Linked DNA regions of Homo sapiens. The protein of the gene in region 5 purifies or fractionates together with the protein of the main gene of each other region. This does not show direct contact. Each region holds a gene or a part of one and is shown on either strand. Other genes may lie near its edges.

Evidence for each region.
Region 1: the proteins of SERINC1 (region 5) and METTL9 purify together in Homo sapiens (affinity purification with mass spectrometry, with the first as the bait; one large-scale study listed by BioGRID). This does not show direct contact.
Region 2: the proteins of SERINC1 (region 5) and ABAT purify together in Homo sapiens (affinity purification with mass spectrometry; one large-scale study listed by BioGRID and IntAct). This does not show direct contact.
Region 3: the proteins of SERINC1 (region 5) and HTR1E purify together in Homo sapiens (co-immunoprecipitation; one large-scale study listed by IntAct). This does not show direct contact.
Region 4: the proteins of SERINC1 (region 5) and GPR89B purify together in Homo sapiens (affinity purification with mass spectrometry, with the first as the bait; one large-scale study listed by BioGRID). This does not show direct contact.
Region 6: the proteins of SERINC1 (region 5) and HCN1 purify together in Homo sapiens (co-immunoprecipitation; one large-scale study listed by IntAct). This does not show direct contact.

What each region holds. Positions count from the first base shown.
Region 1 is NC_000016.10:21,653,998-21,658,460, forward strand, and holds the end of METTL9 (protein-L-histidine N-pros-methyltransferase isoform 1 precursor), read left to right. Parts: intron 1-1,229; coding exon 1,230-1,435; 3' UTR 1,436-3,474; downstream 3,475-4,463. UniProt on the Homo sapiens protein: Protein-histidine N-methyltransferase that specifically catalyzes 1-methylhistidine (pros-methylhistidine) methylation of target proteins.
Region 2 is NC_000016.10:8,777,935-8,782,699, forward strand, and holds part of ABAT (4-aminobutyrate aminotransferase, mitochondrial isoform 1 precursor), read left to right. Parts: intron 1-1,544; coding exon 1,545-1,656; intron 1,657-3,315; coding exon of another isoform or gene 3,316-3,374; coding exon 3,375-3,496; 3' UTR 3,497-4,765. UniProt on the Homo sapiens protein: Catalyzes the conversion of gamma-aminobutyrate and L-beta-aminoisobutyrate to succinate semialdehyde and methylmalonate semialdehyde, respectively. Can also convert delta-aminovalerate and beta-alanine.
Region 3 is NC_000006.12:87,013,328-87,017,918, forward strand, and holds the end of HTR1E (5-hydroxytryptamine receptor 1E), read left to right. Parts: intron 1-1,822; 5' UTR 1,823-2,007; coding exon 2,008-3,105; 3' UTR 3,106-3,352; downstream 3,353-4,591. UniProt on the Homo sapiens protein: G-protein coupled receptor for 5-hydroxytryptamine (serotonin). Also functions as a receptor for various alkaloids and psychoactive substances.
Region 4 is NC_000001.11:147,926,628-147,932,172, forward strand, and holds the start of GPR89B (Golgi pH regulator B), read left to right. Parts: upstream 1-1,792; 5' UTR 1,793-1,909; coding exon 1,910-1,951; intron 1,952-2,162; exon of another isoform or gene 2,163-2,451; intron 2,452-5,545. UniProt on the Homo sapiens protein: Voltage-gated channel that enables the transfer of anions such as iodide, chloride, bromide and fluoride which may function in counter-ion conductance and participates in Golgi acidification.
Region 5 is NC_000006.12:122,446,543-122,451,307, reverse strand, and holds part of SERINC1 (serine incorporator 1), read left to right. Parts: intron 1-4,042; coding exon 4,043-4,187; intron 4,188-4,303; coding exon 4,304-4,534; intron 4,535-4,765.
Region 6 is NC_000005.10:45,643,625-45,648,389, reverse strand, and holds part of HCN1 (potassium/sodium hyperpolarization-activated cyclic nucleotide-gated channel 1), read left to right. Parts: intron 1-2,781; coding exon 2,782-3,205; intron 3,206-4,765. UniProt on the Homo sapiens protein: Hyperpolarization-activated ion channel that are permeable to sodium and potassium ions. Displays lower selectivity for K(+) over Na(+) ions.

The DNA.
Region 1 (4,463 bases), on a different chromosome or scaffold from region 5:
ATTTTCTCATTAACAGAAAGTTATTCTCAGTCTGTTTTGTTTTTTTTTTTTTTTTTTTTTTTGAGACAGAGTCTCGCTCTGTCGCCCAGGCTGGAGTGCAGTGGCACGATCTTGGCTCGCTGCAAGCTCCGCCTCCCGGGTTCACACCATTCTCCTGCCTCAGCCTCCCAAGTAGCTGGGACTACAGGTGCATGTTGCCATGCCCAGCTAATTTTTTTGTATTTTTTTTAGTAGAGACGGGGTTTCACTGTGTTAGTCAGGATGGTCTTGATCTCCTGACCTCGTGATCCGCCCACCTCGGCCTCCCAAAGTGCTGGGATTACAGGCATGTGCCACCACGCCCGGCCTCAATCTGGTTTTAACACTTCAACAGATGTATGTAGTTTTTGTATCACCATAGCACCTAAAAAGTACCCCCAAAGTTAAATATACTGTCATCTCTGTGTGTGTGTCTGTAGTCAGTGCCAGGTTTGTATGTGAATTTGAGGACCTTCCCTAGTCCCCTTGTCCCCCAGGCATCTCCTGCTCATAGGTTTGGAAATGACTGATAGAGGCTTCATCTCTAGTCCAAGAAATGCTGGACGGTGTATCCATCCTACTGTTCCATCTCTCTCTGGTCCTGGAGCTTAATGTTTATGAAATTGTTCTGAAAAGGCAAAGAATGAGTCAACTTCCCTAGAAAAACTCCCCAATGATCTGCTTTTCTAAATTAAAATCCTTCATGAGCCTGTTTTTATTTTCAGCCTAATAAATCTCTCTAGGTAGTAAGTTGCATAAGTTTACTATGCCAGTGGTATTTTCTTGCATTTGTCCAAAACTGTCCTTCAGATATTACATGTTGCTCTCTGTTTCAGTATTCCAGCATTTAATGACCAGTTTTCCAAACCCATTAACCATTACACCCTGCAGTCAGTCTATTGGCAGATACTACCCAAAACTGTCAGAGAAGATAACAGTGTGGGGCCTTGGATCCAGACAAACCTGGGCTTACATTTCCATACTGACACTCATTAACCTTGCAAGCGTGGGCAAGTTCTTCACCCCTTCTGAGTCTGTTCTTTATCTGCCCACCTGTCTCAAAGAGTACCTGGGAAGTACAAAAGAGGTAACTCATGAAGCCCTCAGGCTTGGAACGTACCAAGTCCTTGGTAGATATGGCTCCTCCCTGCTTCCCTCTTTAAATCACTTGTTTGTTCAAGAATTTAACTGAATGTTCTTATTTGTATTAGTAGGTGGCAAGTGGGAGAAACCATCAGAAATTTTGGAAATCAAAGGACAGAACTGGGAAGAACAAGTGAATAGTCTGCCTGAAGTTTTCAGAAAAGCTGGTTTTGTTATCGAAGCTTTCACCAGACTACCATACCTGTGTGAAGGCGACATGTATAATGACTACTACGTTCTGGATGACGCTGTCTTTGTTCTCAAACCAGTATAAACACGTGGAGGTCGAAGTCTTCAGAGTCCGCACCCTCCGGGATGTGCCCTTGGAAGAGGGTCTGTGTTCACAATTACGTGAAGGGAGGACCCTTGGGGACCGCCATTCTAAATATCATGTAGGAATTTAAAAAGCCAAAATACTAATTATTTCTTTGTAGTGTGTAAAGGAATGTTTTTAAAAGACAAAAACCCAACTCTTTGTGGATTTTTATCAACTCTTTACTCAGAGCCACTCTCCAATGCAGGTCACACTCCAATTATGATGGAAGATATTTTTTATACTTAATTGCAGTAGGGACTCATTCCCAGACAAAGCAATAGTCACGACTTCATGGAACCAATCAATGGATTGTTTTTTGAAGACTGGCAATAAAGCTGTCCATTCAATTCCAAATACTGGTTTTAAGGTATAGCCACTGATATTCTTTCATGTTTAGAAATTCTTTCTGTTATTATTCAAGAAAATGTTTTTAATCATGCTAATAAACTTTTTTGGAGATGACTTTGGCATCATGTTTGAATTCATATAAAGCTCCCCTAGCATTTTTTATTGGTTTGGCTTCAGGAGTACCCAAATAGTAGCATTATGAGAATGACGCAGACAATTTGAATAGGGGGGAAGGAAGGCTTCAGACTTGGGGGAAGGGGAGATTATTGCAAATTGCAGTGAACACTGAGTCAGTAAAAAAAAAAAACAGAAACAAAAACCCAGCCTCATTCAGATACAGAACTTCAGGGACCCCTCCCCCCACCCCCCCAGTTAATGCTGCTGTGAAAAATGCAAAATAACCTGGTTCTGACTTTGTGATCACTCATGTCCCATACACTGAACTTTGTTTTTTTCTGGACAATCTCAGGTTCTCAGAATTGAAACATTCAGTTTTGTCTACTGACAAAATGCAACTAAAAATGTTTTAATTCAACTTCTTACTCTACACTTATATACCTCTCTCCCAGAGCTTGGCTCTTCCCTGAAATCCTTAAAGGAGTTTATTATTTGCCAAGAATATGGTTTGATGAAGACCGTGTCAGACTCATGCATTCTGGAATCCGTGAGTGCCTCCAACCATAAACCCAGAAATGCTGCCATAGAGGAACCCATTAGCAAGATCAATAACCATCGTGGATATTCCAAAGAGCAGAGCATTTAACCCAGAATCTGAAATCTCAGTAATAACAGAAATGTCAATATGAGATTGTGGTTATTAACAATATGTTATCCTCACTACTTTATTTCTTTTTTCATCCAGGTGTTTCATTAAGTATTCTCATTTATATGCTCATAGAAGTCATCAGATCAACACATTCACTCCAACACCTGGGTATAAAGGCGAATTAAAACCTGAAGAATTACTTTATTATTCATTAAGAACTGCATTCCCACATCCTCACACCAATATCTTCCACTGTTACTGTGCAGTCATAATAAGAGTTGGGTTATGTGATTTATGCAAAATTGTTATTGGTGTGTTCTAATGATTTTTTTCCAGGAATTCAAGTAAGTGAAGTACAAATACTTAGCACCATAGATTGTAAAAATAGAAAGAGGAAATGAGAAAACTTAATGTCGTTCTTGTACAGTTGAGTTTTGCTTCTTTATAAACTGTCTGTTAAAATCAGGGGTTGCTGTTAGACTGTCAAGCAGAAGTGATGGATGTTCAAGGAGGCAGGTTGCCCCAAAGTGTTTTCTAACTTTCAAGTAGAGAACTTTATGCTCTAATAAGAAAAATACAACTCATTCTTAACCACCCCCCCAAAACAGAGAAAACACATACATTTATGCATTTTAAAGATAAAAAGTAGTTTCTCAAAAAAATCTGAAGTTCTCTGAAAACCAGCTTATTAAAAGTGCTGTTTTGTGGTGAAAATTGAAACCAAATCCACTCACATTTCCTATCGGGTCTTGAAATTCTTGGTGGTGTGTCACCATTCCACTAGATGGCAGTGTTGCTTACTGAGTGTCAATGGCTTTTTTCCCCGTAAATGGAATCATGTTTTTCTCCCCCAAAGTACAATAAAGCTGCCTTGTCTGCACCATTCCTCGTGTAAGTGCTTCATATCAAGTTAAGACTGTACTAGAGAAATTAAGAAGAGCTTTATTTGTGGTAAAAGCAAGCTAACCAATTGACCTTAAAGGTTGAAATGCAAGCCACACCTCTGATTCCTAGCTCCCTGCACCTGCATTTTAAGCTCCTAAAGTGCTCAGACCACTGATCTCAGAGAAGGGGAGGAAAGGAGGTACAGTGCCCTTAGTCATTTATCCCTTGTACAGAGTAGTTAAAAGCAGTACTGTATTTTCTGCCATCCAGTGTGACCTGTCATCAGTTTTTACATGGTTGGCTTTTAACAGAAAAAAGTTGAGTTGGAAAATAAAGTGTAGATGTTTCAAGTCTTCCTGAGCAAAGCTTTGTTTTCACTTGGTTCTGAGTATAGTATTAATAGGCTATACTGCGTATGTTATTTACAGTATTAATGAAGCAAGATGTTTTCATTAATTGCTTCCCACTACTTGGTTACTGATGGAGGTGTTACATGATCCTTTTTCTCCAGCAATGTCAGTATAGTATCATGGGCTTCCAGTGACTAAAGTGACCTACCATGTTAGTGCAGATGCTTAAGCACCCCCAGTTACCTTATATCCAGTGCTTCCGCCGGCTAGAAGATAGTGCATGGAATCAGGGCAGCCTGGACTGAGTTGTACTGTCTAGGAGTGCACTGAGCACAAAACTGGGCTCATAAGTAACTTGAGACAAATCAGGACTATGTTGCCTAGGCTGGTCTTAAACTCCTGGCCTCAAGTGATCCTTCTACCTTGGCCTCCCAAAGTGTTGGGACTGCAGGTGTTAGCCACTGTCCCTGGCCTAGCACTCCCTTTATCTTGCAAAACTGAAACTATGTTCATAAACACAACTCTCCATTGTCTCCACCCCACCCTCTAGCAACTATCATTCTACTTTCTGTCCCTTTGACTACTCTAGGTAGTCATGATCCGCCCCATGATCCAGTCACCTCCCATATAATTGGAA
Region 2 (4,765 bases), on a different chromosome or scaffold from region 5:
GTGAGAACCCATACTCCACAAAAAGAAACAAATTGTGCACATAAGTGTCTAACACGGTGCCCGGCTCTGTCACCCCCAGAATAGGACCATGTCTCCAGTTTCTACCAATGAGCTGCCGTGAAATAAGACTTGCTCCCCCAACTCAGCCCCCAGTACCCTGAAATTATTTGGGGTTTTCCAAGCCCTTGTTTGCTGTCCTTCATATGGACAGCAGAGAGTAAGGTGAAATCAAGGTCCTCCAGACTAGGCACCTGCATTTGTTTCCTTGTCTGCTGTAAAAAATCACCACAAACTGTGTGGGTTAAAACAAGAATTTATTCTCTCACAGTTTGGAGGCCAGGGTCTGAAATCAAGGTTTCAGCAGAGTTGGCTCCTTCTCGAGGCTCTGGGGGAGAATCTGTTCCATGCCCCTCTCCACCTTCTCGTGGCTGCCGGGAATCCTTCATGTTCCTTGACGTGTGGAGGCTTCACTCTGCTTCTGGCGTCACTTGGTGTTCTCCCCACTGTGCCTGTGTCTGTCTCCAGATTGTCTTCTTCTTATAAAGATACCAGTCATTGAGCCGGGCGCTGTGGCTCACACCTGTAATCCCAGCACTTTGGGAGGCCAAGGCAGGTGGATCACTTGAGGTCAGGAGTTCGAAACCAGCCTGGCCTACATTGTGAAACCAGTTTCTACTAAAACTACAAAAAAAAGTTAGCCAGGTGTGATGGCAGGTGCCTGTAATCCCAGGTATTTAGGAGGCTGAAGCACAAGAATCTTTGAACCTGGGAGGCAGAGGATGCAGTGAGCCGAGATAGTGCCACTGCACTCCAGCCAGGGCAACAGAGTGAGACTCCATCTCAAAAAAAAAAAACAAAAAACAAAAAACAGTCATTGCATTAGGGGCCATTCTAATGCAGGAAGACTTCATTTTAACCTAACTAATTATTTCTGCGAAGACCTTATTTCCAAATTAGGTCCTAGTCATAGGTTCCAGGTAAACATGAATTTAGGGGGCAGTGGGAGGAAACTATTCAATCCAGTACAGCTCCCAGTCTCAAAGCCCTGAGGGAGGACAGGCATTTCTTCTTCCAGAAGAACCACCTTTCTAGAAGAGCTGACGATGGAGATGGCTAACATCTGTGGAGCATCCACCAAGTGCCCAGCCCCAGGCTTAGGACTTAACATGTGAACCTTATCGTGCTAAAGTCTCACCACGGCCCCAGTGGGGTCAACAGCATTTAAATCCTTCAGTTTATAGCAGGGTAAACAGAGGCACTTGAGTGGCCCAAGGTTATACAGTGAGAGGGACAGAGCTGGGCTTGGTTGTTGTTGCTGGTGGTGGTGGTGGTGGTTTTTTTCCTCCACACAACACACATGTGCACAGCTGGGCTTTGAACCCAGGCCTGAATGTCCCCAGAGCTCTTAACCCCCTGGAGGTCCTGCCAGTCCATGCAGAGGCCGAGGCTGGACCATGGGAGGCCTTTGACGAAGCACAGCCATTAAGCCCAGCTGGTACACAGGTGATGGGCTTTGACGCCAGCCTTGTCTCCTCCCACTACAGGCCCGGTACCCCCAGTTCATCAGCAGGGTGAGAGGACGAGGCACCTTTTGCTCCTTCGATACTCCCGATGATTCCATACGGAATAAGCTCATTTTAATTGCCAGAAACAAAGGTAAGGGGTCAGGAGTGGCTGCTGAGTTTCATGAGCATCCAGTATCTCCTGCTGTAGCTGCCACATGTTGCTAGGTACTCAGCAATATTTTGTGTGGGGGGCAGGTGGTACACAGGTCTGAAAAGAGCCTGAATGCTCTTTCTCCAAAGAAGAGAACATTACAAATGGGATTTCTTTATCCATTTATTTACTCAACAAGCGTTCGCTGAGGAGGTGAGTTGTAAGTGGACACTGGAGACAGTTACAGTGATGATGAAGACCATCAGAGCCCCTTCCTTCAGGAAGCATGCAGTGTAGCAGGAAGGCATGGCTTTACACATGGCATTTCACAACCAATCCATTGCAATTTTAAGTCCTGGGAAGGAGAAAACGCAGCTAAGAGAGCAGATAGCTGCAGCAGTTGGTGAGGGTAGGAAATCAGGGCAGGCTCCCTTGAGGAAGTAGCATTTTACCCTAAGTCTTGACAAACAGGGATTGGCTGGGTGAAGAAGGTAAGGAAGAGCATTCTGGGCGGAGGGAAGGGTGCATGCGATGGCCTGAGGTGGGATGGAGCTTACAGAGGTGGTAAAAGGGAAAGAAGGGGGCGTGAAGGCGAACGGTTGGGAGGGGATGAAGCTGGGGGAGGAGAGGCCAGGCCCGGGTCGCATGGGCCTGCAGATCAGGCTTAGCACTCCAGACTTCATCCTAGGAGCTGTGGGAAGCCACTGAGGACATGTGTGGCAGGGGTAAGGGCAGACGCTGTGGTGAGATCAGAGCACGTACTCTATGTCAGGCACATTGTCAGTTCTTCTTGTGCCATCTTACAGAATCCTTGCAGCAGCCTCAGAAGGGCAGGGATAATCAACCTCCATTTTAAAAATGAGAAAACGTGGTCTCAAAGGCATAAACAGGCCGGGTGCAGTAGCTCACGCCTGTAATCCCAGCACTTTGGGAGGCCGACGTGGGCAGATCAGCTGAAGTCAGGAGTTCGAGACCAGCCTGGCCAACGGGGCAAAACCTCATCTCTACTGAAAATACAAAAATTAGCTGGCCGTGGTGGCGGCACCTGTGATCCCAGCTACTTGGGAGACTGAGGCAGGAGAATGGCTTGAACCTGGGAGGTGGAGGTTGCAGTGAGTGAGACTGGGTTGCCACTGCACCCCAGCCTGGGTGACAGCGCGAGACTCCATCTCTAAAAAAAAAAAAAAAAAAGGCATAAACAACCTCGACAAGGAAAGGACACCAGCTGTAACTGTGAAGTCACCCTTTAAAATAAGCAGAGCCTGTCCCTCCTCCGTAATAGCTCAGCACCTCACACATGCTTCCGACTCAGCCTGTGCTTTTGCAACTTATTTGCTTACCTATTTTCTTTTCCCACTCCTCCATGACTTTGTGGAAGGCAAGGACTTTATCTCAGGATTTCTCTATCACCAGACCTAGCTTGGGGCAGCAAAGCAGGCACTCAAAGGAGAGAGGGAGGGAGGAAGGGAAAAAGGAAGTGTGGAGGGAAGGAAAGGAAGAAGAGAATGATGGAGGAGATGAATGAGGGGAGAGAGAAAGGAAATGAAGACTGGATGGGTGGGTGGTAGGAAGGAAGCCCGGGCTTCCATGATGGAGGATGATGGATGGATGGATGGATGGATGGATGAGCGTTGCCAACAGGCATCACTTTCCCCCCAGCTCTCCCAGCATGTGACTTTGAGAAACCACGCTCCTCACCTACCTCCTGCCTCTTTCAGGTGTGGTGTTGGGTGGCTGTGGTGACAAATCCATTCGTTTCCGTCCCACGCTGGTCTTCAGGGATCACCACGCTCACCTGTTCCTCAATATTTTCAGTGACATCTTAGCAGACTTCAAGTAAAGAAGCCATTTCCACTACAGTGAGAAAGCCCGGATCCCAACAGTTGTCAAATTGATTAGTTTGCCTAATTCATGTTTTCACTTAAAAGTATCAGAGGTGAATGCACAGTGAAGGGTGATTTGTGGGGAGGGAGCATTTTTGGTGGTCTTGGGGGAGGGGAGGGGAGGGAAGGGCTGGTGTTGATTTTCCTCCCTGCAGAGCCAATGGTGCACATTGGTTTAAGCCCAGAGATCCTGCTTGAGCCCTGGACTCATCTTGGGAAGGGCCATGGGAGGTCCTGGCTAGAGTTCTGCCCAACCTTGACCAACCCCAGCAATTTTTCCAAAAGCCAGTCAAGGGCATTACATTTGTTCCTGGGACTGGCAGCTGGGCCTCCTGGGTGCCAGTCCATCTCAAGTGCCATATTCTGTGATCACGGATGTTGGCTCCCCCTCGCCCTATGCAAGCAAACACACTCTCACCTCCTCTCCCAGCCTCCCGGAGCTCTGAGCACGCCCCACGCATGGTGCAGGAGGGACTGGACAGATCTGAGGAAGGCCGTAAAATGGGGACAGGAGGATTCAGCTCAGGAGTAAGGGAAGAGGTCCTCTGGCCCCCTGAAGATGAGAATCACCCCTCTCAGTGCACCTGGGGATCCCCCTAAACTGTGAATTCTGCCCTGGACAGGGCTTTGCCCTTGGAGGATCCCCAGGTGGCCTTACCCGTGATTCTTACTCGGCATCCTCCATTCCCCAAACTCCCTCCTCCCTGTTAAATGTCAACCTAGACCTGGACCTGGGTGGGAGGAAACTGTAGCCTGAGTGTCCACAGGGACACACGTGAGCCACAGGGCTAGAAGCACAGGCCCGTCACCCCAGGAGGAAAAGCCCAGGGTCTGGGGCAGCAGAGCCATCGCATCATGTTTCCCAGGGCAACTTGAGGTCTGACTTTTGGCTCCCTCGCCCTAAGAGGCTCTTCCTCTCTTTTGCTCATCCACCTTCACACCACTTGTGAGCTGACCCCCAGGAACAGCTTGGCTGTTCCACCAGAGCAGAGGGAATCATTGCTGGACTGGATTTCTTCTGGAGGGAAGCACCATGAATTAAAGGTGCCAGAGCTCCATGCATGGAAAAGTGGCCTGTTGGTTCAACGTGGTTTCCTTGTACTTGATCCTCCTGAAATGAGAGATTTTCCTGAGATGACTGAGTATGGAGATTACCAGGCAGATGATACCGAAATGCTTAAAGGGGCTGTGGCTGAGGCTGTAGCATCTCTGCTGGAGGTGAGACA
Region 3 (4,591 bases), about 35 Mb from region 5:
GAGTAATTCTCTCCTATTTGTAATTTTTATGAAAAACAATTTAAATATGGCCTTGGACTCATGATATTTTTTATGTCACAATAAAGTGGAAATTTAAAGTTACAAATCCCCAAAAAGGTCCTCCATCAACTCCTCATAGGATGTATCCATTTTTAGCTCTGATTATTGCAGTTAACTTTCCAAAGTGCTGGGATTACAGGTGTGAGCCACCACGCCAGCATATTTACTGTGAAAGTTTAAAATCTGATTTGAAAGCTGCTTATTATAAGCAATATAATTTTTTCTTTAACGGCCCCAGAATGTTTAATGTTACATAATATGAATATATATTTTCAAATGTAAAAAAAAGCCTTTTTATATATAAACATGTATAAAAGAATAAATATAAATAAGAAATTAATTGGGGTGGCAAAGTACATTTAAAATTTTGTGATGTTTTTGTCAAAAACGATTTGAACAAATTTATAGGAAAAAAACAAACAACCCCATCAAAAAGTGGGCGAAGGATATGAACAGCCACTTCTCAAAAGAAAACATTTATGCAACCAACAAACATATGAAAAAAAGCTCATCATCACTGTCATTAGAGAAATGCAAATCAAAACCACAATGAGATACCATTTCACGCCAGTTAGAATGGTGATCATTAAAAAGCCATCATTCTGAGCAAACTATCGCAAGGACAGAAAACCAGACACCACATGTTCTCACTCATAGGTGGGAATTGAACAATGAGAACACCTGGACACAGGGCAGGGAACACCACACACCCGGGCCTGTCGTGGGGTCGGGGGACGGGGGAGTGATAGCATTAGGAGAAATACCTAATGTAAATGACGAGTTAAAGGATGCAGCAAACCAACACGGCACATGTATACATATGTAACAAACCTGCATGTTGTGCACCTGTACCCTAGAACTTAAAGTATAATAATAATAATAATAATAATAATAATAATAATAATAAGGCAGGAAGCAACAGATGCTGGAAAGGATGTGAAGAAATAGGAATGCTTTTACACTGTTGGTGGGAGTGTAAATTAGATCAACCATTGTGGAAGACAGTATGGCGATTCCTCAAGGTTCCAGAACCAGAAATAACATTTGACTCAGCAATCCTATTACTGGGTATATACCCAAAGGATTTTAAATTATTCTACTCTAAAGACACATGGACATGTATGTTTATTGCAGCACTATTCACAATAGCAAAGACTTGGAACCAACCCAAATGCCCATCAGTGATAGACTGGATAAAGAAAATGTGGCACATATACATCATGGAATACTATGCAGCCATAAAAAAGGATGAGTTCATGTCCTTTGCAGGGACATGGATGAGTTGGAAACCATATTCTCAACAAACTAACACAGGAACAGAAAACCAAACACCACATGCTCTCACTCACGAGTGGGAGTTGAACAATGAGAACACATGGGCACAGGGCCGGGAACATGACACACCAGGGCCTGTTGGGGGGTGGAGGGCTAGGGGAGGGATGGCATTAGGAGAAGTACCTAATGTAGATGATTGGTTGTTGGGTGCAGCAAACCACCATGGCACATGTATACCTATGTAGCAAACCTGCAAGTTCTGCACATGTATCCCAGAACTTAAAGTATAATTTAAAAAAAAACAGTTTGAAAACTTCCCTGAAGTAAAAAAAGTATCCTTTGAGGAACAATGTAACGATGAGCTCAAGTTCCACAGGAAAGAGAAAATTAAAATTTATAAAGAATTTATAAATATCAAACTATTTTCATGTTTTCCAGGAAAAGTGTGGCTTTCTCATTCATTAACCAATAGCATAATATTTTCCAGGAACCTTCACTCAGAAGAAATGCTGTGGCCCTTCCCTTTACCAACAGAAAATGGAACACAAGAGACCACATAGCTGAACAAATTATAGCCTCCTTACAAGTGAGAAACCTTCGAGGCTACATAGTTTTCAGCCAAAGGAAAATAACCAACAGCTTCTCCACAGTGTAGACTGAAACAAGGGAAACATGAACATCACAAACTGTACCACAGAGGCCAGCATGGCTATAAGACCCAAGACCATCACTGAGAAGATGCTCATTTGCATGACTCTGGTGGTCATCACCACCCTCACCACGTTGCTGAACTTGGCTGTGATCATGGCTATTGGCACCACCAAGAAGCTCCACCAGCCTGCCAACTACCTAATCTGTTCTCTGGCCGTGACGGACCTCCTGGTGGCAGTGCTCGTCATGCCCCTGAGCATCATCTACATTGTCATGGATCGCTGGAAGCTTGGGTACTTCCTCTGTGAGGTGTGGCTGAGTGTGGACATGACCTGCTGCACCTGCTCCATCCTCCACCTCTGTGTCATTGCCCTGGACAGGTACTGGGCCATCACCAATGCTATTGAATACGCCAGGAAGAGGACGGCCAAGAGGGCCGCGCTGATGATCCTTACCGTCTGGACCATCTCCATTTTCATCTCCATGCCCCCTCTGTTCTGGAGAAGCCACCGCCGCCTAAGCCCTCCCCCTAGTCAGTGCACCATCCAGCACGACCATGTTATCTACACCATTTACTCCACGCTGGGTGCGTTTTATATCCCCTTGACTTTGATACTGATTCTCTATTACCGGATTTACCACGCGGCCAAGAGCCTTTACCAGAAAAGGGGATCAAGTCGGCACTTAAGCAACAGAAGCACAGATAGCCAGAATTCTTTTGCAAGTTGTAAACTTACACAGACTTTCTGTGTGTCTGACTTCTCCACCTCAGACCCTACCACAGAGTTTGAAAAGTTCCATGCCTCCATCAGGATCCCCCCCTTCGACAATGATCTAGATCACCCAGGAGAACGTCAGCAGATCTCTAGCACCAGGGAACGGAAGGCAGCACGCATCCTGGGGCTGATTCTGGGTGCATTCATTTTATCCTGGCTGCCATTTTTCATCAAAGAGTTGATTGTGGGTCTGAGCATCTACACCGTGTCCTCGGAAGTGGCCGACTTTCTGACGTGGCTCGGTTATGTGAATTCTCTGATCAACCCTCTGCTCTATACGAGTTTTAATGAAGACTTTAAGCTGGCTTTTAAAAAGCTCATTAGATGCCGAGAGCATACTTAGACTGTAAAAAGCTAAAAGGCACGACTTTTTCCAGAGCCTCATGAGTGGATGGGGGTAAGGGGTGCAACTTATTAATTCTTGAACATACTTGGTTCAGGAGAGTTTGTAAGTATGTGTGGTCTTGTTTCCTTGTTTGTTTGTTTGTTTTGTTCTGTTTTGTTTGAGGATTGTTATTTGGCGTGCTGTTTTCTACCTCTGGTCTTATCTGTGATACATAATTTCAAATAAACATTATCATACAAAAACAGAAATTTTGTAGAAGTAATAATAAGATGAAATACTAAATACCTTTTATGGGTTTTTTTTTTTTAGCCATTTCAGTTACCCTGCAATTAAAGAATGCCAAAAATATCTTTATTTGCAGAATTTCTTATTACTTATAAATTAAATACCTGATAATGCCCTCCATGGCATTAAATCTGAGATTATGGCTCTATCTGCGTACATATTCCAGTGGGAATTGCATGACTACATAAAGAATTAAAAGAAAGTGATGTGCTGTCATCTACTGCTTGCAGACCTGAGCTAAAGTCGTTTGCTGTAGCACTGTGACTACATAGCCTATTCATTTCAGGTAAAAATAGTACAGCTGGCTTGTCCTTTTTAGTTCATGATTAAATAAACTTCCTCTTTTTCTAAAATGGAAATACCTGGAATAAATGCACTGGCACTTTTCTATGTCTTTTACTATGAATATAAAACATAAAGCAAATAACAAGTCATCTAAATCTACTTTGGTCAGTGTGTTGCAATATTACCTGACAGACACATTGGGCCTCCTCCAATTCTAAAATCTATCCCAGCTAAGCCACCCATATACACTTTCACTGTAGCAGGACAAAGGTAGGAGTACATGTCAAATTTGGGAAACTTTTTAAGAAGCTTAATGAGGTGCAGTGATCAAATGACAGAATATATTATCTGAAGAACTTCATTGGAGACTATTACTCATTAAATTACCAGTTGCAGCCGGGCGTGGTGGCTCACGCCTGTAATCCCAGCACTTCGGGAGGCCAAGGCAGGTGCATCACCTGAGGTCAGGAGTTCGAGACCAAGCTGGCCAACATGGTGAAGCCCCATTTCTGCTAAAAGGGCAAAAATTAGCCAGGCATGGTGGCACGTGCCTGTAATCCCAGCTACTCAGGAGGCTGAGGCAGGAAAATGACTTGAACCTGGGAGGCAGAGGTTGCACTGAGAAGAGATCATGCCACTGCACTCCAGCCTAGGCAACAGAATGAGACCCTGTCTCAAAAAAAAAAAAAAAATTACCAGTTGTGCTCTTGGGGAAAAAAAGTAAAAGTTGAAAAACTGTGTTTACACCAAAGGCCACTCATCAGGATATGAGAATGAAATTGCGTCTCCCAGAATCCCTGTGGCTTCTGTGCCAGACTGTACCCTGGGGCCAGGAGGCTGCAGGTGGGACCTGAAGCCCTGGGTGTGGCCTGAGAAGGAGTGATTGCTCTAGTCACATGGAGGAGTACACCAT
Region 4 (5,545 bases), on a different chromosome or scaffold from region 5:
ACACAAGTGGTACAGTAGGGAGAATTCTGAATAGTGTCACCCAAAGCTTTGCATAGGCCTTAGGCCAGCAGGTATTGCACACCTTTCTCTGCTATTCCTCGTTACTGATATTCTGATCCCCACTGTGCACCCCAGTAAGCCACCAAGGTAAACTGCTTGCCTTGATAGTCTCTTTCAGCACTCTGCACTCTACACACTCTTGAATGTCAGTTAGGTGCTGTTATGTGGGAATCTACCTGCTTACCTAATAGACATAGCCTGGACACAAAGTTCTCTGGTTTATGACACTCCCATTGTACAGCTGCCTCCACAGCTCCTTGAAATTCTGGATCAGGGATTGGACATCTGACAGGTAGTTTTGACTGCTTGGTATCACAGAGTTCAATCCAACAAAAGGAAGACATGTTCCCTTGTGTGTAATGAATCTGCAGGTCACTTATTCAAACTATAGTAGTCTGAACTCAGATGCTGGATGTCAGGTCCCCTCAGGATTGTCTTCCTGCGTCTTGACTGCAGCCACTCCTACACAGGGTGATTTCCTGGGCTGGAGCCAGTTTGCAGGACTATGAGACTATATAGACTACAAAGCCTAGCTAGGCCCCAGGTCGGCGGCAGAGTAAGCCCCACAGCAATGCGTTAAGCCTTCATGAAATGAGTGTTGAATGAATGAGGTAGTGATTCAGTGTATATTTGATCCACTGCAACAGGTGGGAAGGGGGCAGAGGCAGCTACTTCCTAAAATAACCCTTCTTCAGACTCTTAAAGAACTGATCCTTGTTTTGAATTAAAATCTATCTTCAATTAACTTCCAGTCCTTTGCCCTACAGATAATTCGTAGTGCCACATCAGTTCTACCCATTCTTTCACATGAAGACAGATGTCATGTTCTGAGTCATCTTTCTTCGCCTCCTTCCAGCAGCCCTTATCTGGTGGCTCACATTTGAGCGAGCTCCAATATGTCTCTGTAGAATCTCTCTCTTCTTTTTTCTTTTCTTTTTTTTTTTTTGAGATGGAGTTTCGCTCTTGTTGCCCAGGCTGGAGTGCAATGGCGCGATCTCGGCTCACCGCAACCTCCCCTCCCGGGTTCAAGCGATTCTCCTGCCTCAGCCTCCCTAGTAGTTGGGATTACAGGCATGCACCACCACGCCCGGCTAATTTTGTATTTTTAGTAGAGACAGGGTTTCTCCATGCTTGTCAGGCTGGTTTTGAACTTGCGACCTCAGGTGATCCGCCCGCCTTGGTCTCCCCAGGTGCTGGGATTACAGGTGTGAGCCGGCCCGGCCTGTAAAATCTCTTCAAAGTGTGGTACATGGAGTGCAGTACTCCACCTGTGGCCTGACTGATATGCAGTACAATATTATCACTAAATTGCTACAGACAGTGTGCTTTTCATTGTTGTCACAGAAATGTATTTGGTTAGTTATATTTGTTCATATCTCATCTGACTTTCCAGTCTTCCCTCACTTTGTACAGTCATATTTGCCGAGTCAAGTAAAAGTTATAACATTTAGGACACAATGCCCGACTTACTATAATTACCATTATTATCTTAGGATCATTACAAAACAGAATTACCACTTAGCTCTCAGGCCCTACCTCCTTCAGCCTCAGAAACGTTAACGCTACCTTGCATTGCTGCTTTTAGCACCGCCCCTAATAAGCCCCGCCCCTGGGGCTTCCGCGGCGGAAGCCTAGCGTCCGCCCCACCCACCCCGAGCCCGAGGCGGGGCTGTGGATGTAGCCGCTGATTGGCTGACTGGGGCGCAGCTTGACGGCGTCGGGCTGGAGAGCCGCAGTCCCGGCTGCAGCACCTGGGAGAAGGCAGACCGTGTGAGGGGGCCTGTGGCCCCAGCGTGCTGTGGCCTCCGGGAGTGGGAAGTGGAGGCAGGAGCCTTCCTTACACTTCGCCATGAGTTTCCTGATCGACTCCAGCATCATGATTACCTCCCAGGTGAGTCACCGCCTCCCGCCCCGACACCCGTCCGCCTCCCTTCACCGAATCGCCCTCTCCGGTCCTCCGCGGTGCGGGCTGGTCCGGGGTCTCGCTCCTCTCTTACGCGGCCTGCGCCAGTCACTCTGGCACACAGAGAGGGTGTGCGATTTGCTGCGGCCGGTTCCCTCAGCCCCGGCTGTCAGGAGGCTGGCCTGCGGCCGTCCGCGTCCCCACCCGGCATCCATCCCCGGAATTTCGGTCCACTTTTGGAAGCGGTCCGCCGACCTCCAGGCTAAGAGCCGGCGCCGCCAGCTAAGGCGGCGGTTCTAGGAGCTCCTCGAAGCTTCCGGGCTGCGCCAACTGATCCTGGACTGGGGAAGCCTGTGTGGTTCTGGGCGCGCGGTGTGCGACGCGCCAATACTGGATACTGAGGACACGTCAGTGCAGGCTTTGCTGTTAGATGTCAAATCCTGAATCCGGGTGTGGAGAAATTTGCTGCTTCAAAGTATCAGTATAAGGTAATACCTATGCTTGAAAGTATAAGGTTTCGTTTTTGCACTGACACCTCGTCCTTTATCCTCTGCTTAGTTACCCACCTTTTCCGGATGTTTTTCTGACCCTCATTTCTTCTCCATTGGCCACCTTCATTTGTTTGTACAGTCAACAAACATTTATCGACCATTATATAAAGCTCTGAGCGTAAAAACATGTAAGACACTGTCTCTGCTCAATAGAAGTTTCGTCTAGTTAGCCTCTTGCTTTTACCATGTAATCTATTGTTAATTATTGTTTCTTCCTAGCATTCATCATAGCACTGGCATCATTTATGTCTGTGTTTCTGATTTTGTTTTTTGAGATCCTGCCTTGTTCATAGCTGTATCCCCACTTCCAAATGCAGGCATTCAATAAATAATTGTTGGCCAATATTTGTGAAGCTCAGACTGCCTGTTGACCTTCTTCCCCTCATCTTTCCAATAAAGATTTTGTGTGTGTGTGTTTGTTTTTGCTTGTTCTTTCTCTCAAACGGCAAATAACAGAAACAGTTACCTTTGGGGGCTTAAAGTGAACTAAATTTGTGTTCTTTGATTCAGTTTTTGTATTGCTTCATCCTAATACTCGTCTCCGTAGAGCGGAGCATTGTCCTTTTCTCTTCAAAAACTTGTTTACAATATTTAAGAAAATAAGAAAGAAGGAAAAGCCATCCATAATCCTACCGCTCTAATGCAATAGTTTTTCATTTTTAAAATTTACCACCTTTTCTATAGTTTTCATAAGTATTGTTTTTATTGGCTGCATAGTATTCAAATGTATTAATGTAAAAAAACCTAGACATGTAACTCTTCTGCTTAAAACCTTTCTAAGACTACCCAGTGCCCTTGGTGACAACTCAGGATTATTTTTAGCCTTAGTACCAATTTAAGAAAAATAACAATATTTAATTAGCTTTTCTTTTCACTTAGAATAAAGATAAGAATGTCAGTAGAAAATTGGCTTTGCATTGCAGCCTCTACGATTTTTAGCATGGATATAATTGATACGTTGAACCAAGGAAGTGGCTTTCTAATTTTGTATGCCTTATAATCATAGACTTTCACTTCACACATGTATCCATATGCAGTAATTAATTGTTAAACCTGGTTTTTACAAATGTGGAAGAAAGACCCAAAGATTCCTTTGCATGGAATGTTCTCTGTTCAGATATTTATGTGGCTACTTTATCATCCTTTCGGTATTAATAAAAATGTCGCTTTAGGAAGGTTTTACCTGACACCCTGCCCACAACCAAAGTAGCTTTCCATTTCGGCTGCCTTCTTCCTCATTTCCATGTTTTATTATCTTCTTGGCATTTATTACTATGGTTCATTTGTATATTCATGTGTTTGTTATCTGTCCATGAAGTCCAAGATACTGTCTGTCTTGTTCTCTCCTGTATTCACCAGCATCTAGATCAGTTGCAGGCACATAGTAGAGTTGTAGTGAATATTTGTTTAATAAAAAGCACCTCTCTAGAGAGGTGTGGTTACCTTGGAAACACCACCATTGCCCCCTGCGCCCCTCCCTGCTCATTTTTTCTGTTTTGTATTAACTGAAAGGTTTATTTGAAATGAAATCTGAAATCAGAGGTCACGTATTGAATCTTGCTCACCACGGCACAGGATGAAGTTCAAACTCCTTTACATGGCTTTTCAGGTCCCTTATTGATGGGACCCTGGCTCTTCTCTCTTCAGCTGTGGCTCCAATTTATTCTTTAGACTTCCTGAACTTCTTTTAGTTCCCTAACCTGGCCATGCTATGGTGCCTCCAGATTTCCACACAGTGTGTTTTCTCTTTCTGGGCCTTTTCCTCATATCCCTCCCCTTTAAGCCTTCAGATCTCAAGTTGAACACCCAAGAAGCTTCCCCTAGACTGGACTAGATGTCCCTATACCTACTGCCATAGTACCCTTCACCTACTTCCCCTGTAACAACACTACCACATTGTTTTGTAATTACTTGTTTATCTCCTCCATAGATTATAAACTCCTTGAGAGTAGCATTCATGCTCTCATTTGCCATTCTATCCCTTGGACCTGGCACATATTAGGCACTAATAAATATTTGTTAAATGATTAAAAGGGTGAATAAATGATCCAAGAAAGGTGTCTTTTATAGTTAATTCTTTAATAACTGTCCTGCTGATGGCCATCTTTTTTTTTTTAACAGTAGCTAATTTTCAACCCAGAAGTCACTTTTTAAAAAGCAACTGTTAACTAACTCATGTTTTAAGCCCTCTATACCGTCATAAGACTTATCAGTTCCAGAGTACACTCTTAAGTCCTAAGGTCAAGACTCTGTACAATTCTGAAAGTATTAAGTCTCATTTTTAATAAGAAGCTATACGCCTTCCATTTTATTTGCAAAGCTATTTGAAATTGCATTTTGCTTCTGCTTTCTTTTTGGATCCTCTATAATCTTGCCAGAATTTGTGTTTACTTGGATGTAAATGAATTCTCCAGCTACTTGTGTGTGTGTGTGTAGTTTAAGTCTTTTTTTTTTTTCAACTTTTATTTTATTTTAGATTTGGTACTTGTGCTGGGTATATTGTGGGAGCTGAGGTTTGGGGTACAAATGATCCGGTCACCCAGGTACTGAGCGTAGTACTCAATAATTAGTTTTTCAACCCTTCCCCCTTCTCCCCTCCCCTGCCCCCAAGTAGTCTCCAGTTTCTGTTTTTGCCATCTTTATGTTGGTGAGTACCCAATATTTAGCTCCCACTTAGAAGTGAGAACATGTGGTATTTGGTTTTCTGTTCTTGGGTTAATTTGCTTAGGATGATGGCCTCTAGCTGCATCTGTGTTGCTGCAAAGGACATAATTTTGTTCTGAAAGTCTTTTTAAGCTTTCTTTGTCAATGTGAAAGGAGGCCACAATGAAATATTAAAGGTATATATCTGTTTCTCTTTTCTTCCATTCCCCTCCCCACCATATAAACTTAAAATTTTTGCTTGTTTTCTCTTCCATTTCATAGCAATCTTGGTGATTTTTTTTTTTAATCATCCATTTCCACTATACATACCACCATCAGTCCTAAACTGCCCAACTTCTCTGTCTTCAGTCGTGGCTTCATAAGTCAT
Region 5 (4,765 bases):
CCTTAATTTGAAAGTACTTTATTTCCAAAAAATGCTAACAGTCATCTGAGCCTTCATCAAGTTGTAATCTTTTTGCTGGTAGGAGGTCTTGCCTCAATGTTGACGGCTGCTGACCGAACAGGGTGTTGGTTGCTGCAGGTTGGCATGGCTGTTTTAGTATCTTTAAACTAAGACCACAATGAAGTTTGCCCATTGATTGACTCCTCCTTTCACAAAATATTTCTCTGTAGCATATGATGCTGTTTGATAGCATTTGACCCAGAGTAGAATTTCCTTCCAAATTGGAGTCAATCCTCTTAAACCTGCTCCTGGTTCATTAAGTAAGTTTATGTAATATTCTAACTCCTTTGCTGTCATTTCAATAATATTCATAGCATCTTCATCAGGAGTAAATTCCATCTCAAAAAACTACTTTGTTCATCCATAAGAAGCAACACCTCATCATTCAGGCTTGATAATGAAATTGCAGCAATTCAGTCACATCTTCAGGTTCCACTTTTTAGTTCTCTTGCTCTTTCCACCGTATCTGTAGCTACTTCCTCCACTAAAGTCTTGAAATCCTCAGTCATCTATGAGGGTTAGAATCAACTTCTTTCAAACTCCTGTTAATGTTGATATTTTGACATTTTTTCCCATGAATCATGAATGTTCTTAATAGCATCTAGAATGGTGAATCTTTTCCAGAAGGTTTTCAGTTTACTTTGTCCACCCAGATCTATCAGAGGAATTACTCTATGGCAGCTATAGCCTTACAAAATATATTTCTTAAATAATAAGATTTAAACGTTGAAATTACTCCTTTTTCCATGGGCTGCAGAATAAATACTGTGTTAGCAGACATGAAAATATTAATCTCCCTGTACATCTCTATCAGAGCTTTTGGGTGACCCAGGTGCATCGTCATTGAGTAGTAATATTTTGAAAGGATCTTTTAGCAGTAAGTCCCAACAATGGGCTTAAAATATTCCGTAACCCATACTTTCAACAGATGTGCTGTCATCTAGGCTTTTTTCTATTCATAGAGAGGCTGAATAGACTTAATATAATTCTTAAGGGCCCTAGGATTTTTGGAATGGTAAAGAACATTGGCTTTCTCTTAAAATCATTGTCTGCATTAGTCCCTAACAAGAGAATCAGCCTGTCCTTTTAAGCTTTGAAGCCAGGCATTGACTGACTTCTCTATAGCTATGAAAGTCCTAGATTATATCTTCTTACAATAGAAGTCTATGTTGTCTTTATTGAAAATCTGTTGTTTGGTTTGGCTGCTTTCTTTTTTCTTATTTTTATTTTTTTGAGATGGAGTTTCACTCTTGTTGCACAGGCTGGAGTGCAATGGCACAATCCCCGTTCACTGCAACTTCTGTCTCCTTGGTAAGCCATTCTCCTGCCTCAGCCTCCTGAATAGCTGGGATTACAGGCCTGCGCCACCACACCCAGCTAATTTTGTATTTTTAGTAGAGATTGGGTTTCACCATGTTAGCCAGGCTGTTCTCGAACTCCTGACCTCAGGTGATCCACCCGCCTCAGCCTCCCAAAGTGCTGAACTTACAGGCGTGAGCAACCATGCCTGACCAGTGTAGCTACTTTCATTAATTTTGTTGGCTAGATTTTTAGGATGACTTGCTGTAGCTTCTGCATCAGCACTTACTGGTTCACCTTATACTTTTATGTTACGGAGACAGTTTCTTTCATTAAACCTCAACAACCAACCCCATCTAGTTTCAAACTTTTCTTCTACAGCTTCCTTCTCTCTCTCAATCTTAATAGACTTGAAGTGAGAGAGAGGGCCTTGCTCTGGATTAGGCTTTGGCTTAAGGGAATGCTCTGCTGGTTTGATCTTCTATCCAGGTCACTAAAACTTTCTCCTCCATATCAGCAATAAGACTGCTTTGCTTTCTTATCTATCATTTGTGTGTTTGTGTTCACTGGAGTGGCACTTTTAATATCCTTCAAGAACTTTTTCTTTTCTTTGCATTCGCAACTCAGCTAACTGGAACAGAAGGCCTAGCTTTTGACCTGTCTCAGCTTTTGGCATGCTTTCTTAACTAAGCTTAATCATTTCTAGCTTTTGATTTAAGTGAGAAAGGGGACTCTTTTACTTGAACAGTTAGAGGCCATTGCAGGGTTATTAACTGGCCTAATTTCCATATGGTTGTGTCTTGAAATAGGCCCAAGGAGAGGGATAGAGACAAGGAAATGGCTGGTTGGTGGAGCAGTCAGAACACACACAATGTTTGTCGATTATTTCACCATCTTATATGGGTGTGATTTGTGGTGCCCGAAAGAAATTACAATAGTAACATAATAGGTCACTGATGAGAGATCACCATAACAGATGTAATTAATAATAATGACAAATTGTGAAATATTACAAGAATTACCAAAATGTGAAACAAAGTGAGTACATACTGTTAGAAAAAATGGAACCAATAGACTTGTTTAATGCAGGGTTGCCACAAACCTTCAATTTGTAAAAAGAACAGTATCTGTAAAATGCTAAAAAAAAAAAAAAAAAAAAATAGGCAAAGCACAGTAAAACAAGGTATGTCTATGTAAGAAACTGGGTGAAATTATAAGAAAGGTATCTGATTTGCATAGAGCATATAATTGTCGTATATAGAAAGAAAAACTCTTCAAATTCCTGTTGATTCAATTGTGAACAGTATAATTTTTTCACATTATTAAATTACTCTTTTAGCCTGTGACTACCTTACAATTGAATTTGATAATTGGGCTTTGTAATGCATCTTATTATAGGCTAGTTATATTGCATACCATGAGAATAGAAACATATGTTGAAAGGAGACAAATTAGAATAGACAAAAATTATTACCTATTAAAAAGAAGAAAATGATCTCTTTTCCTAAAAAATTTATCTGATGTTATATGAATCTCATTGAGTTTACAAACTGTAGGTATTTTATCATAGGTACTTTATAACTTGGAGACCAATTTATTTTTTGTTTTTTTGTTTTGATGTATTACACAAAGATTTCCTGTTTTTTTCCAGGTAGGTGGTTAGAAAAAAATTATTAGTAGTTTGCTTTAGAGAAGGAAATAGCCTTACCTAATTGGCTTTAAGGTAAGAATCATTTTCATTAGTAAGATGGAGTTTGACAGATCTGGCTTTGCAGGAGAAAAATATGTATTTTAGACACTTTAGTGAATATTTTAGCAATCCTACTTTTTTTTTTTTTTTTTGAGACAGAGTCTCGCTCTGTCGTTAGGCTGGAATGCAGTGGCATGATCTCGGCTCACTGCAACCGCCTCCCGGGTTCGAGTCTTTCTGCCTCAGCCTCCCGAGTAGCTGGGACTACAGGCACATGCCACCACGCCCAGCTGATTTTTGTATTTTTAGTAGAGAAGCGGTTTCACCATGTTGGCCAGGATGATCTCTATCTCTTGACCTTGTGATCCGCCCGCCTCGGCCTCCCAAAGTGCTGGGATTACAGGCATGAGCCACCGCACCTTGCCTACTTTCTTCTTTATAAAAGAATAAGACTTGAGTAAGCAGTAGGTCATTATACTTTATTGGGTAATTTCCATGAGGCATTTGCTGGAGTCCTTATAACTGGTTTTTGTGTAAGCTGTCTTGGTTTTTTAACAATGTGCTGTATCAAATTGATAAGCTTCATAAAGTCTGTATCATAATCTCAACATATGATAGAAAAGCCAGTGCATTGTGGTTTATAATCTCTGAATTTTCTTTCTAAATCTACTAGAATTATACTAACCTTAGAAAGTTCATCTATATTTCACCTCTTTCCTGATTGTAGAGGTAATTATCTCTCAGCTATCACATGTTGTTGAAAATTAAATGATTTAACTTTTCCAGGTACTTCTATAAAATCAGAACTATTAACACTTCAAAGGTCTTATTAATAAGTGCAAGTTTTCTTCAATTATTTTTGTTATACTGATGCCTTTTCCAGCAATTGTTTCTCAATTTGCAGGGGTATAGAGAGTTAAAAATAACTTTTGTTTGCTCTGAAAAACATCTTTTTAATATATTCTAACATTTTAATTTGGCTTTATATTACAGAAACAAATTGCAACCCAAGTCTACTAAGCATAATTGGCTACAATACAACAAGCACTGTCCCAAAGGAAGGGCAGTCAGTCCAGTGGTGGCATGCTCAAGGAATTATAGGACTAATTCTCTTTTTGTTGTGTGTATTTTATTCCAGGTAGGAAAAACTATGGAATTTTTTTCTTTAAACAAGAAGTCTAGCTGTTTATTTATGAATCATTTCTTTTAAAAATGTTCTTTTTTTTCTCTCCTCCTAAACTCTCTTTCATACAGCATCCGTACTTCAAACAATAGTCAGGTTAATAAACTGACTCTAACAAGTGATGAATCTACATTAATAGAAGATGGTGGAGCTAGAAGTGATGGATCACTGGAGGATGGGGACGATGTTCACCGAGCTGTAGATAATGAAAGGGATGGTGTCACTTACAGTTATTCCTTCTTTCACTTCATGCTTTTCCTGGCTTCACTTTATATCATGATGACCCTTACCAACTGGTACAGGTATTTATATTTCATGAAAACTCTGGATGTGTGAATTCTGATGGCATTTTATGATTCTCTTGTGAAACCATGATGTGATATGAAGTACTTTTTATCCTCTGATATATTTCAAAATGTACAGCTAAATGAATAGTGAGATCAGCATGAGAAATGCAGTCTTTACTTCCTTGCTTTAACAGTAACACAAACATTGAAATAGTTCCAAATCTTGGAGAGATTAAAATAAAAATT
Region 6 (4,765 bases), on a different chromosome or scaffold from region 5:
TCAGACCATATTAAGTATTGCTAGCAAAAAGCTATAGTGTGATAAGCATTATTACTGTAGTAAAGAATGAATGGTGCTTTCTTTTCATCTCTATTGCTCTGAGGGATGGGATATTAGTTTTCCTTCAAAAAAAGCTTCTATCTTAATTACAGAAATGCAAAGATGTCTGTAGAAATGAGTATTTTTCATTAGGTTGCTGGGTGCTTCCCACAAAATTGGATTTCTTGTGGTAAGTGAGGAAGGGTAAATGGGTAGTGACTAGGCCACTGGCATTGTGTGCCACAATTATATGCCAGGCCCTGGGATTAGCATATATCGTCTCGTTTAATCCATAAAACCCTGTATATTTGGCTCTGTAATAATCTTCTTTGAACAGGTTAGAAAATGTAAAATAAAATCATTTAATTGGCTTGTATTTAAATAAAACAGCTGGTAAGACTTTCTGAATGAGGACAGCTGCAGTGGGAATAGTAAAGTGCAAATGGATGAATACAACATACATTTAGGTGTGAGAACTAAACAGCCTTGGTGATCAATTGGATATGGGTTTGAGCAGATTTAGGGCCAGGAGTTATTTAGGATGGCTCCATGGTTTCTGGCTTGCAAATCACACATAGAGTTATTCCATTCCCTGAGATAGGGGATATGTGAGGAATATATGTGGGAGAGGAGATTATGAGTTTGAGCTTAGGCATGCTGTTTGAGATGAGTGTGAGATATGCCAGGAGAGAGATTTAACGGGCTACTGATTATGAGGATTAGGAGGCTTAGAAGATAGGAATGGACTGAAGATAAAGCTTTTGGGGTCATCAGTTACAAATTAATTATTAAAGGCATGGATAAGTGTATAATATTTCTCAAGGGCAATGCGTAGAATAGAAGATGAAAGGGCTATGTGTGACACCCAGGGGAACAACAGCCTTGAAGGGGAGGGCAGAGAGAGAAGCTTACAGAAGGGACTTGATAGGAGTGCCCAGAAGTGAAAAATCCTCAGGGTACACACAGTTTCATTTTAGAGTTTAGTGGTGCCATTTCTTTGTGAAATAGCTGTTACAATATTGCTCCTCCTCTACATCTCTCCTCTGTCCTTATTGTGTTGAATGGTATATTTTGCATTTCCATTGTGAGAAGATATAAAACCATTTCATTTAAACTGCCAGTACATGTTGTATGGCTGACATGGGTATTTGTACAGTTGTTTCAAAAATTGCAGGCAAGTTTTGACAGAAATACTGGTGAAATCTTCAAAATAACAAACGCTTATCCTTTACAACATCCTGAGGCTGGAGACAGGGGAGATAGGGCCTATTATAGTTTTTTCTTCAACTAGTACTTTTATTTCAGGAGTCATTCTTAATTACAGATGATAGTAACTTTGAAAGCTTTATACACATGTATACCTCACCAAAATGTAGCTCAAATAGTCTAAGTAGGAGTATTCATGTAAAACAAAAATATCTTGGTAAACAGACATTTTTATCATGGAAGTTTATATTGTTTATACAAAACTCCTCAAATAACATACCTATGACTAGGATAAAGTAACTCATGTTTCTGGATACATTTCATGATTATACAGTTGTGTTTATTTTTTCATTTTTGCAAGTATATACTGTAACAACTATAAATATTTGATTAATAGGAGTGTCAACAGACTGAAAGAACCCTTATAAAAATAACACTATAGTTATGTCAAGTGAATTTAGTTAATTTAGTTAAGCTATATAAACCAGCAATGAAGTTCCTGGTTTTCTCTCAATTTTAATGTAAGTTGAGATAAGAATATTTCAAAAGGTACTTAGTAGTCATAGGCATGTTCAGAATTAAATTAGAAATGTTAAAGATTTTTTTTTAGCTGGGCATGGTGGCACGCCTGTAATGCCAGCTACTCGGGAGGCTGAGGCGGGAGGAGAATCACTTGAACTTGGGAGGCGGAGGTTTCAGTGAGCTGAGATTGTGCCATTGTACTCCAACCTGGGCAACAAGAATGAAACTCCGTCTCAAAAAAAAAAAAAAAAAAAAGAAAGAAAGAAAGAATTTTTATGGAAAAGTAGTGGCAATATATTTGAAGTAGTTGTTCAATAGAGTAGTAATAAAAACACAAATTTTAGGTAGATTCTAGTTTCAAATATGGAGTAGAACTTGCTCAGTTCTTTTTAGCATCAGACCAAAATTAGTTTTCTTATTTCAAGCAAAAGAAAAATAAAGCATAAAATATTTGGAGTACTGCAAAACTCCAGTGTATTCTAGATTCCATGGCAAAACTAATCTGTATTCCTTGAGATAAATTTGCATAACTAAAATTGTTAGAGTATCCTATTTATTTCTGGGTTTTTTTTTCTAATCTATGATTGGTAAATTGACATCTAAAATAATTCAAAACATCTTCAAAGAGCCTTCCCAAAGGCTTTCTTACAGATCTTCTAATCTTATACTTCTTTCTAGTTTCTGTCTATATTTTGTATTAAGTATAAGGTAGGTTGCTTTTTTTGCCTCTTTACTAAATAAATGGGGGTATGAATGTTTTTGATTTTATTTGTATAATGCTTCATATCACATAATTTTTAGAATTCCATAATCATAATGCCTTGGTTTAAGAATATATTAATTTTACTTAGATTTAAACATATAGCCATTTAAGGAATTACATTTTTAAAAAATAAAATCATTTCTTTGTTCTTTTACTTATTGATCTCACTATATATCAGTAATAATTTTTCATGGGGGGGATAGGCTGGTTATTTTCTATATCTTAAAATCTGATTTTTTTATTTGTTGTAGGTTTTACTGGGATTTAATAATGCTTATAATGATGGTTGGAAATCTAGTCATCATACCAGTTGGAATCACATTCTTTACAGAGCAAACAACAACACCATGGATTATTTTCAATGTGGCATCAGATACAGTTTTCCTATTGGACCTGATCATGAATTTTAGGACTGGGACTGTCAATGAAGACAGTTCTGAAATCATCCTGGACCCCAAAGTGATCAAGATGAATTATTTAAAAAGCTGGTTTGTGGTTGACTTCATCTCATCCATCCCAGTGGATTATATCTTTCTTATTGTAGAAAAAGGAATGGATTCTGAAGTTTACAAGACAGCCAGGGCACTTCGCATTGTGAGGTTTACAAAAATTCTCAGTCTCTTGCGTTTATTACGACTTTCAAGGTTAATTAGATACATACATCAATGGGAAGAGGTAAGATGCATCTTTTTCTTTTTTAAATCTATATCATGAAATTGTTAATTATGGCTGTTTTACAATGAACAACTGTGCAATGTGTAATGAGTTTTATGAAATTCAAGTAGAAAAATGTATTCGACGACTCTTTTCCATGCATAAGTGATATATTTGTATCCCTAAAATATATGATCAAATAATGGATTTGAATGAACTGAAAAAAATAGTGATCGTTTTATGCCAATTTATTTTATTTTTAAATAAATGCACTTTAATCAGCAATTATTATCTTGATCAATACAACCCCTTTCCCACCTTGGTTTTTTTTAATCTAATATAAATACATCAAGTACCATTATTTTGATAAAGATGTGTAGGGTCTGATTGCTAATCTGGCACATCATTAGCTCTGTGAGATAGTGTGGTTTTTGTATCCTCTAATATTGAAGTTTCATTGAATTCATGATTGGGTAAAACAGATTGTTTCTTTATTTCCAAATTGTATATATAAAGGCTTTGATTTTAGCATATTAATTTTGCTTATTGTTATGCCTTGCCTATAGTAACTTATTTTAGTTTCTCCCTATTAGTTCATTTCATAATACTAAAAAGGAACATATTCATGAGGGACATTAGTACATAGAAAACACAAAGAGTATAGTGAATAAATGGAGTGAATCTGACCAATCAGGCCCATATTTTGCTGAATAGAGCATCTGTTGTTAGGCAGTGGGTGGGACCTGAGAGGGCTCAGCCAACTGGAGTTTCCAAAGATCTGAGTTAAACCATCATCAAGCAAAGGAGTTCATATCCCTATCTTCAAAGTCTGAATATTAACCATTTTGACTTCCTTTTCTTCCTAAGTCTTTTTGTATTAATTATAACCTGAATTTTATAGTCTGCATAAGCGTAAGAGTCCAAAAGACTTGTAGAATGCCTAAATCGACACTAATGAAAGTCATATAAAGTCATATACTGGCTATAGAATATTGCTTTCCTCCCTACAGAAATACTTTTTAGCATTTTCAAGATAAATTATGTTTTTAAATATGTCATAAAATGGAAGTTCTGTTTGATTTCTGTGAGGCGGTAGCAGTGTTTTTGTATGTGCTTGTCAGTGACATTTTGGTTCACAGGATTTCAGGAAATGACATGCAATAATAAAACACTGCATAATACACTGATAAAAAGGCATAAAAATGGATCATTCTTAAAATATAGATATGGGATATATTTAAAATCAAATGAAGCACATTTGAGAAATCAGATTCATCTTGTAATTTTTCTCTATATAGCACATTCCATCTAAAATGGAATAAATGTTCAGTTCTCAAAGCCTTTTTATGCTAATTTGAGATTAATACCAAACCAAGATGATTCTTGCTAATAATTGCTAATATTTATTGAAGGCTTATTACACGTCAGCTAGTATGTTTGATTCTTTACATATATTAGCTCACTGAATCTTCCTAACAACACAAAGATGTAAATATAATTATTGTCATTATTTTACAGATGAGAACAATTAAATACAATAAGGTAACTCGTCCAGATTCATAGAACTAGTAAGAAGTGGAG